Homo sapiens: one gene and its partners. The protein of the gene in region 1 purifies or fractionates together with the protein of each later gene. This does not show direct contact. Each region holds a gene or a part of one and is shown in the gene's direction. Other genes may lie near its edges. The genes, in order: PDXDC1, WDR44 and PHF6.

The links.
Region 2: the proteins of PDXDC1 (region 1) and WDR44 fractionate together in Homo sapiens (co-fractionation; one large-scale study listed by BioGRID). This does not show direct contact.
Region 3: the proteins of PDXDC1 (region 1) and PHF6 fractionate together in Homo sapiens (co-fractionation; one large-scale study listed by BioGRID). This does not show direct contact.

The regions. Positions count from the first base shown.
Region 1 is NC_000016.10:15,026,951-15,030,603, forward strand, and holds part of PDXDC1 (pyridoxal-dependent decarboxylase domain-containing protein 1), read left to right. Parts: intron 1-1,927; coding exon 1,928-2,016; coding exon of another isoform or gene 2,017-2,082; exon of another isoform or gene 2,083-2,855; intron 2,856-3,000; coding exon 3,001-3,106; intron 3,107-3,653.
Region 2 is NC_000023.11:118,352,529-118,356,181, forward strand, and holds part of WDR44 (WD repeat-containing protein 44), read left to right. Parts: intron 1-3,653. UniProt on the Homo sapiens protein: Downstream effector for Rab11 which regulates Rab11 intracellular membrane trafficking functions such as endocytic recycling, intracellular ciliogenesis and protein export.
Region 3 is NC_000023.11:134,379,761-134,383,413, forward strand, and holds part of PHF6 (PHD finger protein 6), read left to right. Parts: intron 1-3,653.

The DNA.
Region 1 (3,653 bases):
AGAAAGAGTTGCTTGAACATAAAGATTTGTGGGTCTTACTTCCCACATATTTTGAGTCAATAGGTTGTGCCCAGGAATCTGTATCTTAAAGAATGACCCAAGTGCCACCAGTCTAGTCCAGGGCACCACTCTTTTTTTACCTGGTTGGCCATTGTCCCCTGTCAACTGACCTCTGACTTTCATACATTCTACACAGCCCATTCCAGACCATTCTCCACCTGGCAGAGAGGGTTATAAGTGGAAGTCACATGGTGTTGAAACCGGAAAGGTTCCCTTGTCCCCCTCGCAGGGCATGTGATGGGGGTGTGGCTCGCTTCTTCAGTGCCCCGCTGCTGCTCAGACCTCTAGGAGAGCATACAGACGGGCAGGCTGTGGGGCTCCGACCCCATGGCAGCATCTGGGGGTGAATGTTTTACAGCTCCTAAGGCTCCAGCGGGCATGTGTTACAGTGTGCTCTTTTAATTTAGCCGTCTGTAGGCAGCTTGTTTTAGCTCACTTAGACCCCCTTCCTTATCACAAGGACAGAGGGATTAATGTATCCCAGGTTCTTGTCTTGGTGTACCGGAAGAATGGGATCACATGTGGGCTTGGAGAATGAGTGCAAGGTTTTATTGAATGAAAGTAGCTCTCCGCTGATGGGGGAGCCAGAAGGGAGACAGATTTCCCTTGGAGTTGGGCCGCTCAGCGGCCCTGGCCAAACTCCGCCTCGTCCCCGTGGTTGATGGCCTGCTGGCTTGCCGGGGCCTGTCGGGGTGCTCTTCTGCCGGCCTGCTCTCCATGACCAGCCGCTTGTGTCTTTTTCCACCAATGTGTTCCTCTGGCCATCCAGCCACTTCTGTCTGCCCACTAGGGTCTCAGGTTTTTATAGGCCCAGGATGGTGGTGTGGTGGGCCAGCGTGGTCTTGGGAAATGCAACATTTGGGGGAAGGCAGGAGTGCTTGTCCTCACCTAGGTCCGTGGGGGTAGAGTCCTAGCCAGGGACCCGCCTTTCTCTCCCCAGCACTTCCCTTCCCCGCTTCTGTGTCATTTAAAGGGACCACGCTCTTCCCTTCCCAGCACTCCCGTATCAGTGTCACTTCCCTGCCCAGAGCCCCTGGGTATCTTACCATTTCGGTCGAACAAAGGCCAGGCTCTCCCATGCCCCATGAGGCCTGCACACTCTGCCCCGAATTCGCTTCTGCCTTCCCCCCTTCCACTCTCCCTCTTGTTCGTTGTGCCTCAGTCAGACCAGTCTTCTCCGCGCTCCAGAACACTCTGCCCTTTCCTACCGCAAGGGCTTAACACTCGGCGTTCCCTCTGTCTTACACACATTTCTCTCTTCTGGTGCCAGCTCCTCCTCACCATTTCGGTCTCCACTAAGTATCCACATCCTCAGCCTTCCCTGCCTATCGTGCCTGAGGGGACTCCATCATTTTCTATCAGAGCCCCCAGCTTCACTTGTGACACTAACAACCACATGGAGTGATTTTCTTTCTTTATGGTCTGTTTCCTCAACTAAAATGTAAGCTCCAAGATGACAGAAACCTTACCTGCCTTCTGTCCCAAGTGTCGGGCTCTGTGCCTGGCACGGGTTGGCACCCACTGTGAGGCCTAGTTAGATGATCGTGGCACTCACAGACCTCGCACGGTGCTTGGTAAACTAGTTAGTAACTTAAAACAATTGCTGTTTCCCCTTGAAATCCCTTGAAAGCAAACCTTTTCAAAAATGAAATTAATAATTCTGTCTTATGTGAATGTATTCAAGTGTTACATAGATCACGAGGAAAAAGAAATGTAGCCCTTCTGTCAGATAATACATGAGAATTCAGTAATACGAGTCAGTGCCCTGGGGCTAATATTGGGATGGGAATGATGTGGGGTTTGGAGGGTGTTTTTTTTGGTCAGCCGTGTTTCTGGGAGTGACTCCCTTTCTGTGTTTTGGTGTCAGATCCGGTGTTTAAAGCCGTCCCAGTGCCCAACATGACACCTTCAGGAGTCGGCCGGGAGAGGCACTCGTGTGACGCGCTGAATCGCTGGGTGAGAATGGCAGTCACCCCCCTTTCCTTTCAGGTCCCCGTCCATCACCATCCGACCTGCTGGTGAGGGTGACGCGTGCTCGTGTATGGGAACTGAGGCCCACAGGAGGAGCCGCCCTGCCAGTGCTGGGCCTGCTCTGGAGTTCTGTTCCCCATTGCGTTACCACCTCACGAGCTGGGTCACCTCTGGCAAGTCCTTCTGGCATTGCTCCCTCACTTTCCTTGCTGCTGTATAAGGCTGTGAGACAACAGGCAAAAGGTGGGCTGCAGGGCAGCTGCGGTGGGTTCTGGTGAGCCTGGGCAGCACAGCCGGGAGCCCCAGGCAGAGTCTGCCGAGCATCTGCAGCTGGCAGTGTGGAGCCAGGCCTGCACTTTGATAGCGTTTTGGGCACTGAATAGCAGCTCTAGGATTTGAGTCTGAAGGGTCTTGTGAACAGTGTGGGATGGCGGCAGCAGCAGTTCTAGCCAATGCTGGACACGCCCAGCCTAGCAGGGTTGGCAGATAAGTCCTGGTACATCCATGCTGGGGCTCAGCACAGCTGTGAGAGACCACAGAGCTGAGTGTCTCAAGCAGAAAGGAACTGGTCATAAACGAAATGAATCAATGCAGGTTACTAAGCAGTGTCAAGTAGCATGTTTTATGACAACAACTACAACTCCCTGCCCGCCACTAGGAGAAAAGACGCTGGGGGCAGACCACATGTCAGCAGTGGGTGTCGCTTAGTAATATATTGTGGGTCATTGTTATTTTCTTCTTTTTGTTTACTTGTATTTCCTAAATTTTTCTACAATGAACTTGTATTAATAAGAAAAAACCATAAAATTTACTGTTTTTAAAAAGCTGCTCTAAGTAATCAGACAGTCAAAAGAGCAGGAATCAGCTCTCCAGGAGGCTCTTTGGTCTGGGGCCGAGGGGATGAGGGTGGGTCCTGAAGACGTCTGAGTCCCTTGTTACAGGAGGGTGTTCATTGTGTCCTCCTCACAGCTGGGAGAACAGCTGAAGCAGCTGGTGCCTGCAAGCGGCCTCACAGTCATGGATCTGGAAGCTGAGGGCACGTGTTTGCGGTTCAGCCCTTTGATGACCGCAGCAGGTAAACCAGGCTTGGTGGACATCCCTTGCTTTTGTTCTGGGGCTGCTGGGTAGATTAGCTTGCCCTTATGATACTCCATTCTCCTAGAGTTATTAGCAGCTCTTTTTGGAGGGGCATTTTCTTTTCTTTTGGGCTAAATTTAGGTAGATTAGCATTCCCATGTAACTTACCAGAATCAGAATGAGAATTCAGAAGTCACCTGAATTGGCCGGGCATGGTGGCTCACACCTGTAATCCCAGCACCTTGGGAGGCCAAGGCAGGCAGATCATCTGAGGTCAGGAGTTCGAGACCAGCCTGGCCAACATAGTGAAATCCCGCCCCTACTAAGAATACAAAAAATTAGCCAGGCATGGTGGTACACACCTGCAGTCCCAGCTACTTGGGAGGCTGAGGCAGGAGAATCACTTGAACCTGGGAGGCCGAGGTTGCAGTGAGCTGAGATTACACCACTGCACTCCAGCCTGGGGGACAGAGGAGACTCCATCTCAAAAAAAAAAAAAAAAAAAAAAAAAGTCATCACATGAATTCCTTTTTTGTTGTTGTTGA
Region 2 (3,653 bases), on another chromosome or scaffold:
TTAGGATGTGAAGTATAGTGGTGGTCTTAAACAGAAAATAATTTCTAATTATTGGTATTTTAGACTTACTGTCTAACCTTTACATTACCCAACACTCCATGTGTTTGTACTCTTAAGTTCATTGTTAAGACTTTGACAGAATCAGGTGAATTTGCCAGGCAAGCACCTTTAAGAGGCTGCTTGTTTCCTCCTCATACTCTGCAATTTTGTTAGTTACTTCCTGGGGTAGTAGTGGAGGTGGAGGAAGGGAGTATAAAGAGATCATGCAGGTTGTGGTGATGGAGGTGGAAGAGGTAAAGGTAGCCCCAGCAGTAGGTATAGAGACCAAGTTACAGTGCTGCTTCCTGGGGCATGGATAACTGAGATAAGACAAATCCCATCATTTTGATACACATGTTCACAGCATGAATTAAATAACCCCTTCTCTAAGAGATTAATAACCTATAAGAAATACCTCAAATCAAAGTTAAAGTAACAAAAATTGTAGGTACTTTATGATGTCCTACTGATATTTAGCTTGAATTGATAAATAACCTATGTTTCTCATTTCTATCCATAGTTAGGCTAATATCTACAAACTTTCACAAGGACTGTTCCCCTCTCACTGTTGGATATTATTCAGCTAACCAGCTAAACCTTTAATAGGGTGCTTTCCTTACTCTTCAGAGTGAAACTCTTTCTATTCCCTTATTTCAAACTCAGCAGTGTTTGTGTTAGTCTGTCATCTCATGATTCAAAACCGAGGAAAAAGCACCTACGACATAATGTGGGCCTCATACCTGATGGCAACCCTGATGTTTTTCCTCAGTCAGTATACAAATTTATCTTGGTTACTATAGCAACCAGTCTATCAGTTATTCTTCTAGCTCTTTTGCCTTCTCTCAGATACTAGGATTACCATATAATCAGGTTCTGCCAGAGCGCTTCAGGTCTTAGAGTTCTATTACCAGCTGCAACTGTCTGGCAGTTCACAGTTTGGCATTCCATCAGAGTCAGTTGTTTTTTAAGTCCACAAAACCTTTTTGTCTCCAAACCTTTTTAAACATTTTAAACATATATAATTTAACAAAAACATGTTTAGGCAGCAATTTCCTCATACTAATTTTCTCAATCCAGTGTTAGTCATTGCCCTGAAGATTGAATGCATTGCATCACTGCATCCAATAGCCATCCCTTTATAATAACAAGTAGAATCAATTTCCAGATCGAGGGTGACCATTTAGGAAATATATTTGCAAATGTGATTTTAGACTCAGTATCATCACAAACTAGCTAAAATGACTTAAAAGCATCTTGATCATCAGCAGCTACCAAATAATCCAGCTTTTAACAAAAATGATTTCTATAGGTTGTAGAAAGAATGTTTGGCCTTTAGATTAATTCATTTTAATTTGAGAAAACTGTTTAGAAAACTAATAGGAAGTGTTATCTTTTGTAGCCCTTGAATAAACAGGAAGAGAACAGTAAAGACTGAATAGTTGTATGGGTCTTTTTTTTTATATTTATTTGACATACTTTTTTAACTCTTAAAAATCTCAGAATTCATGTAACTAAAATAGTTTTAAATTATAAATATGTTTACCTGTTTTGGTCAAAACAAGGATTGGCCAGGTACAGAAGCTCATGCCTGTAATCCCAGTGCCATGAGAGGCTGAGGTGGAGGGATCACTTGAAGCCAGGAGTTTGAGACCAGCCTGGGCAATGTAGCAAGACCTCATCTCTACAAAAAGTTTTTAAAAATTAGTTGGACATGATGGTGCATGCCTATAGTTCTAGCTATTTGGGAGATTGGGGCAGGAGGATTGCTTGGGCCCAGGAGGTCGAGGGTGCAGTGAGCTATGGTCACGCCACTGTACTCTGGCCTGGGCGATGGAGCCAGACTCTGTCTCTTAAAAAAAAAAAAAAACTATAGTTAAATTATGATAATGCTTCAAGGAAATCTTTAATTGTACAAATAGACTTAAGACTGGTTTCACTTTCTCCACAGAGTCCTGATCTTTAAAATTTTTCAAAGGGGGAGTCAGGTTTTTAAAAAATCTGAGGATGAAATATAAGATTTTTTGAAACTTCTGAGGGAAAACTTGAATGGTATTTTTTTTTATTATACTTTAAGTTCTGGGGTACATGTGCAGAACATGCAGTTTTGTTACATAGGTATACACTGAATGGTATTTTCTAATAGGTATCCTATACAGAACAAGCCATACCTGTAACAAGCTATCTATATCTGTATAAAACCTACTTGGCCACTACTAATTGTAATAGACTATTCCAGTACAAAACTCATTGAACCATGGGCATTCTTATGAACCACAGATCAAACTTTCTAGAGAACCTATAAATAGTATGTAGTGCTGTATGCAAACTCACTGTCCCAGGAGCAAGCATCCTGATTACTAAGCAAGCTCAAGAGAAGAGGTGGGAGTATTCTTTCTGACATTGTTCTTGAACTGGTAAGAATAGCTGTGGATGAACTTAATATCCATAGTCCTCTTTTAATTCTGTGCCTGAAAGTATTTATTGAAATTGGAAGACTAAGGGAATCATCTTTCTGGTTATTAGCAGTACTGTTAACAATTGAATTTTTTTTTTAAATCTGTCTTTTAAAATATATTACCTATCCATGCCAAACTAAAATGGCAGGTGGATTGAACATTTCACTCAGCCCCAACTCCACCCCTTTCACTGCCAGCTTTTTCTTTCCTAGCATAGTCAATGTCATTAGTACAGAGATTTCCTAGTATAACTACTTCTTGTCCCTTAAAACTGAGAAGGGTCAGTGATGGAAGAAATATAAAGGGTGGGAACTTTTGGAAGGAGTAAGGGAAAAATTGGTTGCATTGGATATGGTGGACAAGTTGGTAAAGACTTTAGTGTTACAGGTGGTGCTTAGTCATTGGATTAGTGAAAGATGGGTGAGCAGAATGAACAAGTAGCTTGATAAAACTAGTAGCTTTGTGAGTGAAAGCAAGTAGATTTGTCTGTATTTTGCAATGGGTATTTTATCTTTATTAGCTTGGCTTAAGGGTTAAGGTTAATGATTGAGATCAGTCCTTTTTCCTTTAAGTGCACCTTACTGTGCCTATTATGTCCCAGATCATAGCCCTTAGCTGTTGACTTTTAACCTTTGCCTTATTTCCCAGCATAGTCCACAGTTATGTCTAGCAGTGCACACAAGGTTTAGTTGGGGAGGCGGGTGGTGAGTAAGCATGCTCTGTGGTATCTACTGCGCTTCACAATTGGTTCTGATTTTGAACTTCCTGGTTCTCTCCAATCTCCAGTCACCCTTAAACACACACAGGTACCAGTTCCTATAAGAGGAGGTAGGTAAGGGAGCTGAGGCAAAGAGAGTGCTTTGGATGTATAGGATCTTCATAACTTGAGGACATCCTATACCCAGTAAATATTAAATGTTAACAGTAAAACCTTGGGTGGTGTTGCCAGTTATCCTGCATTCCTATCAGTTCCTTGTTACCAACTTTTTTTTCAGGAATGAATGTGTTCACAGTAAGAAAGAAATATTATAGTGCTACATGTTACATGCAAAGAACGATAACACCATAACACCATAATGCTAACTAACGGTGGGCATTTGTTTTCAAAGTTCTTTTAAAAAGTTACTGTTTCAAACAATGAAAAGCAGTATTTTTATG
Region 3 (3,653 bases), on another chromosome or scaffold:
AATGTGGATTTTATTTGGTGGTTTTAGGTTTCTTCACGTTACTGTGCTGATTTCTGAGAACCATAGCACTATGTTTTTATTTCCTAGTCCTTAAAATAAATGCAGATATAAAAAAGAATGATACTTACTTGAAAGTGATTGTGCTGTAAACCTTATTACCCCTTTATTTATTGCTTGACATTATGACTATCCCTGGAAAATATTTCTGTATCCTGACTTGTTAGCATTTTGTCACTTGACACAGCTTGTATAGTCAGAACAAAAGCAGTTTTGGTCCCTAATGTTGAAACATTATTAACAAATGCAATGCCTAGTGTTACACTACATGAAGCAACAGCATACATCTGTCAATATTGCGAAGTTCAGTGGAGATTTAATTTATTTGGACCTTTTTTTTTTTTTTTTTGACAGAGTCTCGCTCTGTCGCCCAGGCTGGAGTGCAGTGGCGTGATCTCGGCTCACTGCAAGCTCCACCTCCCAGGTTCACACCATTCTCCTGCCTCAGCCTCCCAAGTAGCTGGGACTACAGGCGCCCATCACTGTGCCTGGCTAATTTTTTGTATTTTTAGTAGAGACGGGGTTTCACCTTGGTCTCAATCTCCTGACCTCGTGACCTACCTGCCTCGGCCTCCCAAAGTTCTGGGATTACAGGTGTGAGCCACCGCGCCCGGCCTTGGACCTATTCGTTAAAGCATCAGAACTTTGTATGAGTTTTACTATTATAAATTGTTTTGATTAATTTTTAGTGTTATAGTGTAGGGAGATAATTTTTTCCCCAAATGTAGTGTGTTACAAATAACGAAATTTGTTCCTTGATCTAGGGAATGGAACAATACTGGGAATTGAGAACACAAGCTTTAGTGACAGACTTGAGTTTGAATCCCAGCTCTGTCATTTACTAGCTAGGTGATCCTGATTAAGTTATTTACTTCTCCAGGCCATGTTTTCCTCACCTGCAAAAGGGGTTAGATAATGACAGTACTTGCCTCCCAGAATTATTGCCAGAATTAAAAGAGGAAGTATATAGGATTTAAGGTGGTGCTGGGCACATGGTTAGGACTTGATAAATAGTAGCCACCACTTATTGTTTTTGTTTGTTTTTGTTTTTGAGATGGAGTCTTGCTCTGTTGCCCAGGCTGGAGTGCAGTGGTGCGATCTCGGCTCACTGCAGCCTCCACTGGGTTCAAGCAATTCTCCTGCCTCAGCCTCCCGAGTAGCTGGGACTACAGGTGTGTGCCACCATGCCTGGCTAATTTTTAATTTTTTTTTTATTTTTAGTAGAGACAGGGTTTTGCCACATTGGCCAGGCTGGTCTTGAATTCCTCACTTGAGACCGTCTGTCCGCCTCGGCCTCCCAAAGTGCGGGGATTCCAGGTGTGAGCACTGAGGAATAGTGGCAGAAGGGAAGAACTTTTGCTCCGTTTCCTTCCCTTAGAATGTCAGTTTAAACAACTTATATAGGGGATAGGAATGTAACATACGTTTAGGTTTGAAATAATTTTTGAAACTCCTTTTAGCCTTCAGTTTTGCTTCTTTCATTATATCATTTTTACATGATGTGCTATCAGGTAACCAAAATTCTAGATTTAAGTTTGATTCTCTACTATTCCCTGTGTCAATTTGTCTAAGCAATAAAAGGGCTATGAATCAAATAGGAGGGGGGAAAAAGAGTGAAGAGCTTAATGTAACTAGATAAACTGCATATAAACTAGGTAATCAGCTTCCCTAATTGACATTTTTTTTTTTTTTTTGAGATGGAGTTTCGCTCTTGTTGCCCAGGCTGGAGTGCAATGGCGCGATCTCGGCTCACTGCAACCTCCGCCTCCTAGGTACAAGCGATTTTCCTGTCTCAGCCTCCCAAGTAGGTCAGATTACAGGCATGTGCCACCATGCCCAGCTAATTTTTTTGTATTTAGTAGAGACGGGGTTTCACCATGTTAGGCTGGTCGCGAACTCCTGACCTCAGGTGATCTACCAGCCTCGGCCTCCCAAAGTGCTGGGATTACAGGCGTGCACCACCATGCCTGGCCCCTAATTGACTTTTTAAGGCATTTTATCCCGTGAGCCTGTTTGCTTTGGCTCCTGTTCATCTGGATTTCTAGGTGAAAAGTAGGTCATGAACACTCATTCAAAATCATCGAAAACTGGAGTACTGAACCCTGAGTGCTTTCAAGACAAATTTCAATCTGTACCTGGTGTTGACTCCAAAGTTGCTCGCTTGCCCCAAAGAAAAGAACAGAGAGATAAGGAGGCTAGGGCTTGAGGTTAAAGTGTACGTATCAACAGCCAGGTGGGTCAGAGTTGAGGATGAGAGGGCTCAGTAGAGCAGGAGGTGTGAGTGTTTGGTTTTTATGTTCTTGCTGCCACAGGCAATTTTCCAAGGTTCATGTCAGCCACAAGGATCAAAGGAGGAAAGCCATTCTGCATGAACATTTTCATCTCCTTTACACGGTCTTTAATTATATAGCACCAAGATGGACCAGGAAAAATTTGCCAGAGTACTAAGGCTTTTATGATTTGATGCCCTGTTTTTGCAGTTTAGACAGATATATATTTTTCCAGTATGATTTCCAGTTTCTACTGAAGCCATATGGAGATACCACATCTGTACCATCTATTCTTACTTAACTCCAGTCATCTAGCCAAGAAATGCAAATTTCCAAGTAAAATTATGAGTTAGCACTGCTTTTTTGAATTTAAGGAGATACTTGAAAGAAGGATATTTGAAGAATTTACCGTTTCTGGATGAAGCTAGCTGGTGAGATTACTAAGGGTATCTACTATCTACATTGGATAGCTATTCTTCTTTTTTTTTTTTTTTTTTTAAGATGGAGTTTCCCTCTTGTTGCCTAGGCTGGATTGCAGTGACATGATCTCGGCTCACTGCAACTCCGCCTCCCAGGTTCAAGCAATTCCCCTGCCTCAGCCTCCCCATTGGCTGCAATTATAGGCGCCCACCACCACGCCCAGCTAATTTTTTGTATTTTTAGTAGAGACAGGGTTTACCACGTTGGCCAGGCAGGTCTCAAACTCCTGACCTCAGGTGATCCGCCTGCCTCTGCAGATAGCTATTATTCTAATTGGTACCGGTGTCAGATTATATCACAGATTACAAGAAGAGAAAGAGTTCAGAAGGCCATTTAGTTCACCTGTCTTACCCCTATGCAAGATTTCCTACAAGCCACTCAAGATAAGATTTTTGGCCTAAGGATTGGCTGACACGTGTAATCCTAGTGCTTTGGGAGGCCGACTGGGAGGATTGCTTGAGGCCAGGAGTTGAAGACCAGCCTGGACAACAAAGTGAGACCCCTATCTCTACAAAAAAATTTAAAAATTTTGAAATGTGGCATGTTCCTGTAGACCTAGCTACTCAAGAGGCTGAGGTGGGAGGATTGTGTAAGCTCAGGAGTTCGAGGCTGTGGTGAGCTATGATTGTGCCACTGTATCCATCTAGCCTGGGTGATAAAGTGAGGTCCTGTCTCAAAAAAAAAAATTTTTTTTTGCCCTGTTTTTAAATATATCAAGAAATTGTAATTCTACCCAAGTAACCTGAAACAAGACCAGTAATATATAACACTCTTCAGAGTTGAGAAATTCATCCTTCTGTATAAATTAAGTATTTCTCTTAATTTAAAGCCATTTTAGATCTGTCT